2 linked regions of the Homo sapiens genome follow. The protein of the gene in region 1 purifies or fractionates together with the protein of each later gene. This does not show direct contact. Each region holds a gene or a part of one and is shown in the gene's direction. Other genes may lie near its edges.

Region 1 (3,654 bases):
AATTAAGAGGATTGAAACTTTTTTTTAGGAAATGTTGTATGATGATTAAGAACTTGGAGACTCTCTCCAGTGTCACCTTCTCAGCTCAAGTCTTCTCATACCAAAAGAAACACCTTCCTTAATCTTTTACTCTCTTAAGTTATTTAACAATATTTAATAATGGTTAACAGCACTCATTCTGCAGCCAGATTTCTTGGGTTGATATTCCAATATCCACTTCTCAATATCTATGTAATCTTGGTCAAGTTACTTAATCAGTTATTGCCTCAGTTTCTTCGTCTGAAAATGTAGATGATAAAAACCATATGAGATGTGTTATGAAAATTAATTTGTGTGAAACAGTGCTGGCACATAAGTGTTTTTTATAAAGATTATCTATCATTATTATTATCATAGGGAATCTGCACCAAATGCCTAGACATTTAGAAAACTCTTAGTTTGGTAGGGAGGCAGAGGATATCCTTTTTGTTATAAAAATGACATGAAAATATGAGCATAAAGATTGCTAGCTCTTACTATATGATCTGTTGACTTAGGTGGTACAACATCTTGGCCCTGCAACTGATTTTTATAAGAAACTTGCATTAGATTGCTCGGGACAGCAAACTGCAGTGGATTTGTTCCTTTTAAGTTCACAGTATTCTGATCTTGCTTCTCTAGGTAAGGAAAGTCATCATGGGTACATTTGTTTAAATGAACATTTTTAATGCATAATTAAATCTAAACTCTTCAGTAAGCATTCTCTATATTTTAGGGAGAAAAGCATGTGCATTAGATAGACAATATCTATGAAAACTACCAGTAAAGTTTAAAGCACTATACAAATATAAAATGTCACTTGTATTTTGTTTAGATAGCATGATTCCCTTACCATTCTGCTCAACAGTAAACTTTATCATATATTTTATAGATATTACTGTTTTCTCAGATTTGTATGTTCTTATTTTGATGGCTTAGGTTTTCTCATGACTTAGATTTCTTCATAATGTAGAATCTGTACTACTGTTGGACAAGTAAAATATTATTATTTCTATAGCTAATACTTTTTGTATTTCTCTCTAAAGCTTGCATGTCCAAGTATTCTGCAGGGTGCATCTATTATTATCCATCATTCCACTATACTCACAATCCTTCACAAGCAGAAAAGTTACAAAAAGACCTAAAACGGTATCTCACAAGAAAAATTGGGTTTGAAGCTGTTATGAGAATAAGGTGTACTAAAGGTATGAAGTTGTAAAAGTTATATTTTATATTAAATACTTGTATCAAAGTCAGTGAGCATTCCATGTATTGACTACCTCTGACTGTTCATGATGGAAGACTGTTTGATCTCATTAGCTATACCATGTTTTAAATAGATAATAGTTATTGAATAATCCTTGCCCAATTTTTAAAAATAACTTGAATAAGTAGACAAAAGTAATGTTTGATTTACTCAGAAGAACCTAAGAGAAAGCCTATATTAGAAATGATTTTAGAAGGAGAATTAGAGGAATAGGGAAGATCTTAAATAAGAATTGTCAAAGTAAGGGTCTTTGCCTTCATAATCATTTAATGTACACTTCCTTGGTTTTATGTGAATATTTGTTTTAATCCTTTATTTTACCTTTATTTTAAATCTAGGATGAGTTATATAATAACCCTCATTTGCTTAATTTTGTAAATTAAATGTTTAGTCAGATTATGTCTGACTTCAAGTCACATGTGAGAAAATGTAAATAAGGTTAGGTGTCAATACAAGTGAAATGTATAGTCTCCCTTTTATATAACGTCCACTAGTTTTTTTGAATTAATATTTTAGAAACTCTGCCTATGCTTGAACCTTGACTCCCCAGTTATCCTTTTGATTCAAAATCATAAACATCTTTGACTTAAAAAAGTAACTTTAGCTTGAGGTGAAGATACTATTGTTAACTTGATTTTTTATGATTTTCTCCTTTTTAGGTCTTTCAATGCACACTTTTCACGGTAACTTCTTTGTCCGTTCTACTGATTTGTTATCCCTTGCCAACATCAATCCTGATGCTGGATTTGCGGTGCAGTTGTCAATTGAAGAAAGTTTAACAGATACTTCCTTAGTATGTTTTCAAACAGCCCTATTATATACATCAAGCAAAGGTAATGTTAACAGAAATGAAATATAGTCTGCAGCAGTAATTCCTCCCTCCTTTCACATGGCCTTTAGTGGAGTGGGGAAAAAGAATGAATACACAGTGGGAAGTAATGGAATTTGTATTAGTTAATCAAACATATGTTGTTATTTTCTTTCTTTTTTTAACTCTCACTTTTGCATCTTTAAATAGCACACTTTTTTAATTTATGGAAGACTTGTATTCTTAGAATCTTGTTTCAAAACAGTTCATGCTAAATCCAGCTATGCCATTCTTTGTATTATTTCTTGCCCCAAAAAGTAAAAAACTGCTTAGCAATTAAGGCCTTCATTTGTTACTTGACAGTTAAGTTTTCTGGTATTTTACTCTATAGGATATAATTTAGAATGAGTGATATAGCGTATGTTCATACTCTGCAGATTTGGAGAGTGTTTAATTTTCTTTTAAAAATGTTCATTGTAAAACTTGGTTTTTACATCTCAAAATCCTGTTGGTGATGTAATCTAGCCAAAACAATAACTTGAATAAAAATTCGACTTGTGGCTGGATGTGGCGGTGGCTCACGCCTGTAATCCCAGCACTTTGGGAGGCCGAGGTGGGTGGATCACCTGAGGTCAGGAGTTCCAGACCAGCCTGGCCAACCTGGTGAAACCCCATCTCTACTAAAAATACAAAAATTAGCTGGGTATGGTGGCAGGCACCTGTAATCCCAGCTACTTGGGAGGCTGAGGCAGGAGAATCACTTGAACCTAGGAGACAGAAGTTGCAGTGAGCTGTGATCACACCATTGCACTCCAGCCTAAGAGACAGAGCAAGACTCCGTCTCAAAAAAAAAAAAAAGAAAGAAAGAAAGAAAAAAAGTATTTGACATGTTTGCTTTGCTTTATTTCCTTTTTGATCTAATGTATTTTCAATGACTTTTTTTTTAGGTGAGCGGAGAATTAGAGTACATACACTTTGTTTGCCAGTGGTAAGTTCACTAGCAGATGTATATGCGGGAGTGGATGTACAAGCTGCCATCTGCCTTCTGGCAAACATGGGTGAGTAAAAATTGAAGGAACATGTGAAATGTATTTTTCTATCTTAAAAACTGAAGCTTGGCTGGTGGCAGTGCGTCCGCCTGTAATCCCAGCATTTTGGGAGGCTGAGGCGGACGGACCACGAGGTCAGGAGTTTGAGACCAGGCTGGCCAACATGGTGAAACCCCATCTCTACTAAAAATACGAAAAAATAGCCGAGCGTGGTGGCAGGCGCCTGTAATCGCAGCTTCTCAGGAGACTGAGACAGGAGAATTGCTTGAACCTGAGAGGCGGACGTTGCAGTGAGCCGAGACCGCATCACTCCAATCACTCCACTCCAGCTTGGGCAACAGAGTGAGACTCTGTCTCAAAAAAAAAAAGAAAGAAAGAAACTGAAGCTAGGATTTTCTCTTATTTAAAAAGCATATGTTTTACATTTTTATTTACTGCATTGTGAATCAGACTGTCCTCACATTTCTTCCTTAATCTTACTTTCAAAATCTTTGAGGGAATTCATAATCTCT
Region 2 (3,654 bases), about 30 Mb from region 1:
GAGACGGAGTCTCACTGTTGCCCAGGCTGGAGTGTAGTGGTGCAATCTCGGCTCATTGCATGCTCTGCCTCCCGGGTTCACGCCATTCTCCTGCCTCAGCCTCCTGAGTAGCTGAGACTACAGGCACCTGCCACCACACCCAGCTAATTTTTTGTATTTTTAGTAGAGACGGGGTTTCACCGTGTTAGCCAGGATGGTCTCGATCTCCTGACCTCCTGATCTGCCCGCCTTGGCCTCCCTAAGTGCTAGGATTACAGGCATGAACCACCGCGCCCGGCCCATTGTATAATAGGTAAATTATTTTATGTGATTTATTTTCTTTGGGAAAGTTAATGTTTCTGCTAGTTAATGATACTTAGTTTAGCTTCAGTTGCTGATGAAATTTAGATTAGGAATTGTTAGCAAGTAGGTGTCCATATGCACATGAAAGTTTAACTGATTAATTTCTTTGTGACAGAATTCCAGTTTTGCAACTAAGAGTGGACAGTAACTTTGAAATTGGTTTTAATATACTTTTGCTTGTACTTCATATATTTAGAATATAACAAAAAATCAAAAAATGGAAACAAAGTTTGGTCTGTTCTGAAATCCCATTCAGCTCTTAGTAGTTAATCATAAGTTTATTTATTTTTTTGAGATGGAGTCTCACTTTTGTCGTCCAGGCTGGAGTACAGTGGCGTGATCTCAGCTCACTGCACTCTCCGACTCACTGCAACCTCCACCTCCCAGGTTCAAGTGATTCTCCTGCCTCAGCCTCCCCAGTAGCTGGGATTACAGGTGTCCACCACCACACCCAGCTAAGTTTTATATTTTTAGTACAGACAGGGTTTCGCCATGTTGGCGAGGCTGGTCTCAGACTGCTTACCTCGGGTGATCCACCCACCTCAGCCTCTCCCAAGTGCTGGGATTACAGGCGTGAGCCACCGCACCCTGCCGGTAATCGTAAATTTAAACTCGGATAAATTATCCCTTAAAAGTATACCAGAAAACAAAATGCAGTTTTGCTATTTTATATATGTGTATATAATGTGTATATAATTATTATAAAAATTACAAAATGATTTTTCTGTAAAAATCGAGTGAGGGCCGGGCACAGTGGCTCACGCCTGTAATCCCAGCACTTTGGGAGGCTGAGGCGGGTGGATCACCTGAGGTCAGGAGTTAGAGACCAGCCTGGCCAACATGGTGAAACCCCGTCTTTACTAAAAATACGAAACTTAGCTGGGCGTGGTTGCAGGCACCTGTAATCCCAGCTACTTGGGAGGCTGAGGCGGGAGAATTATTTGAACCCAGGAGGTGGAGGTTGCAGTGAGCCGAGATCGCGCCATTGCTCTCCAGCCTGGGGGACAAGAGTGAAACTTCGTCTCAAAAAAAAAAAAAAAAATCTAGTGAGAAGTGAAAATCTTTTAATAATGTGGTAAATTTATTCTTTGCTTGCTTTTTAAGTGTGTGTGTGTGTGTGTGTGTGTGTGTGTGTGTGTGTGTGTGTCCAGGATTTCACTGTGTTGCCCAGGCTAGTCCTGAGCTCAGGTGATCCTCCTGCTTCAGCCTGCCAAGTAGCTGAGATTATGGTACATGCTACTGCGCCTGGCCTGTTTGCTTACTTTTTAATTTTTGTCTTTCTGGAGTGAGATGCAGTATGAATGAACAAATATATGTTTTTGTTTTAAACTGACAGCATATATTTTTAAAATTCTGTATTGTGTTAGAAACCTGAAATGTTTTAAAAAATATTTTTTAAAAATTCTTTTGCGTCAATAGAGTGGGTTAAAAATACTTGTTTGTGCAGAGTGACCACAGTTCAGTTTTCAATAGTAGTAGATGGACAACACTATATTTTCAGAAAAGCAGACTAAAGCTTAAAAGGGAACTGAATTTAATGTTCCATTTTTTAGATGTGTCAAAGTCTTGCAGTCCTGGGTCATTATTGGGGCTCAAACTAGTTATTTGATGATAATAGAATTGCCATCCAAACTATTGGAGCGCTGGTTAATGAACAGTTTCCAGAGGGGCGGGCATGGTGCTCGGTGTGATTGGGGGACTGGAGAGATACTGTCCAGCTGGCCTCAACTGAAGGGATCCCTCTCCTTAGTGTGCAGTCTTATATCTTTTAATATTTCTGCTTCTGACAATGAAGTTCTGACAGAGCATTGATTCAAATATATCTTCTTTCTTCATAAAAACATTTTTGGGCCGGGCGCGGTGGCTCACGCCTGTAATCCCAGCACTTTGGGAGGCCGAGGCGGGCGGATCACGAGGTCAGGAGATCGAGACCATCCTGGCTAAAACGGTGAAACCCTGTCTCTACTAAAAATACAAAAAATTAGCCGGGCGTAGTGGCGGGCGCCTGTAGTCCCAGCTACTTGGGAGGCTGAGGCAGGAGAATGGCGTGAACCCAGGAGGCGGAGCTTGCAGTGAGCCGAGATCCCGCCACTGCACTCCAGCCTGGGCGACAGAGCGAGACTCCGTCTCAAAAAAAAAAAAAAAACATTTTTGGACATAAAAAGCTATGTCGTATAAAGGATCATATGCAAAGGACTGTTCAGAATTTTCTCCCCCAGATACCTGTGTGACTCATTTTTCTTATTTGTTTTAGGACTTCTGCTCAGATGTCCTTTATTTTTAATTTTAAATTTATTTTTATTATTATTTTTTGAGACAGGGTTTTGCTCTGTCACTCAGCCTAGCATGCAGTGGCACAATTTTAGTTTACTTCAGCCTCTGCCTCCTGGGTTCAAGTGATTCTCCTGCCTCAGCTTCCTGAGTAGCTGGGATTCCAGGTGCCTCCTACCACACCTGGCTAATTTTTGTATTTTTAGTACAGGCGGGGTTTCACCATGTTGGCCAGGCTGGTCTTGAACTCCAGGCCTCAGGTGATCCACCTGCCTCGGCCTCCCAAAATGCTGGAATTACAGGTGTGAGCCATTATGCCTGGCCTAATTTAAAAAATTTTGAGACAGAGTCTTACTCTGTTGCCCAGGCTGGAGGGCTGGAGTGCAGTAGTGTGATCTCGGCTCACTGCAACCTCTGTCTCCTGGGTTCAAGCGATTCTCCCACCTTAGTCTTCTGGGTAGCTGGGACTACAGGCACATGCCACCATGCCTGGCTAAACAGGTGTCCTTTAAATGTTATTTAGAGACCTTCCTTGGCTAGCAGTCAGTCCTTCTCACCTTATTTTCTTATTTCTTACTTTATTCTCATTTATCAGCTTCTGACATACATTTACTTTTATGTTTATCACGTTTTCCACAATTAAAATGTAGGGTTTATGAAGATAAGGACGTCTGTTAATGGCTCTATTCACATTGGTTAAAATGATGTACCATAGTAGATGTTTAATAAATATTTGTTATGTGAAGTGAGTGTGAAAATAGTGATTACAGGGCAAGAGAGAAAAAGATCTTTGGATTGTGTGCTTGCATAAATTTTTGGAGAAGGGAGTTAAGCTGGGCTTTGGCATTACAGAGTACATTAGTGTATGAAATAATTGTAGGATATTGGGCAGAGCCTATATTATGGTAAGACTTTGAAGTTTAATTTATAAATGAATTATAGTATTTGTTTATATAGCCTTTCATCACAAAAGCATAATAAGAGGAAAATTTTGTTATTGTTTCTTTGGTTTTGGCATTGGAGGAGAAATGGTATCAGGAT

What was found. The genes of interacting proteins can lie anywhere in the genome.
Region 2: the proteins of SEC24B (region 1) and NAA15 fractionate together in Homo sapiens (co-fractionation; one large-scale study listed by BioGRID). This does not show direct contact.

What each region holds. Positions count from the first base shown.
Region 1 is NC_000004.12:109,524,282-109,527,935, forward strand, and holds part of SEC24B (protein transport protein Sec24B), read left to right. Parts: intron 1-536; coding exon 537-660; intron 661-1,064; coding exon 1,065-1,223; intron 1,224-1,944; coding exon 1,945-2,118; intron 2,119-3,040; coding exon 3,041-3,151; intron 3,152-3,654. UniProt on the Homo sapiens protein: Component of the coat protein complex II (COPII) which promotes the formation of transport vesicles from the endoplasmic reticulum (ER).
Region 2 is NC_000004.12:139,307,982-139,311,635, forward strand, and holds part of NAA15 (N-alpha-acetyltransferase 15, NatA auxiliary subunit), read left to right. Parts: intron 1-3,654. UniProt on the Homo sapiens protein: Auxillary subunit of N-terminal acetyltransferase complexes which display alpha (N-terminal) acetyltransferase (NAT) activity. The NAT activity may be important for vascular, hematopoietic and neuronal growth and development.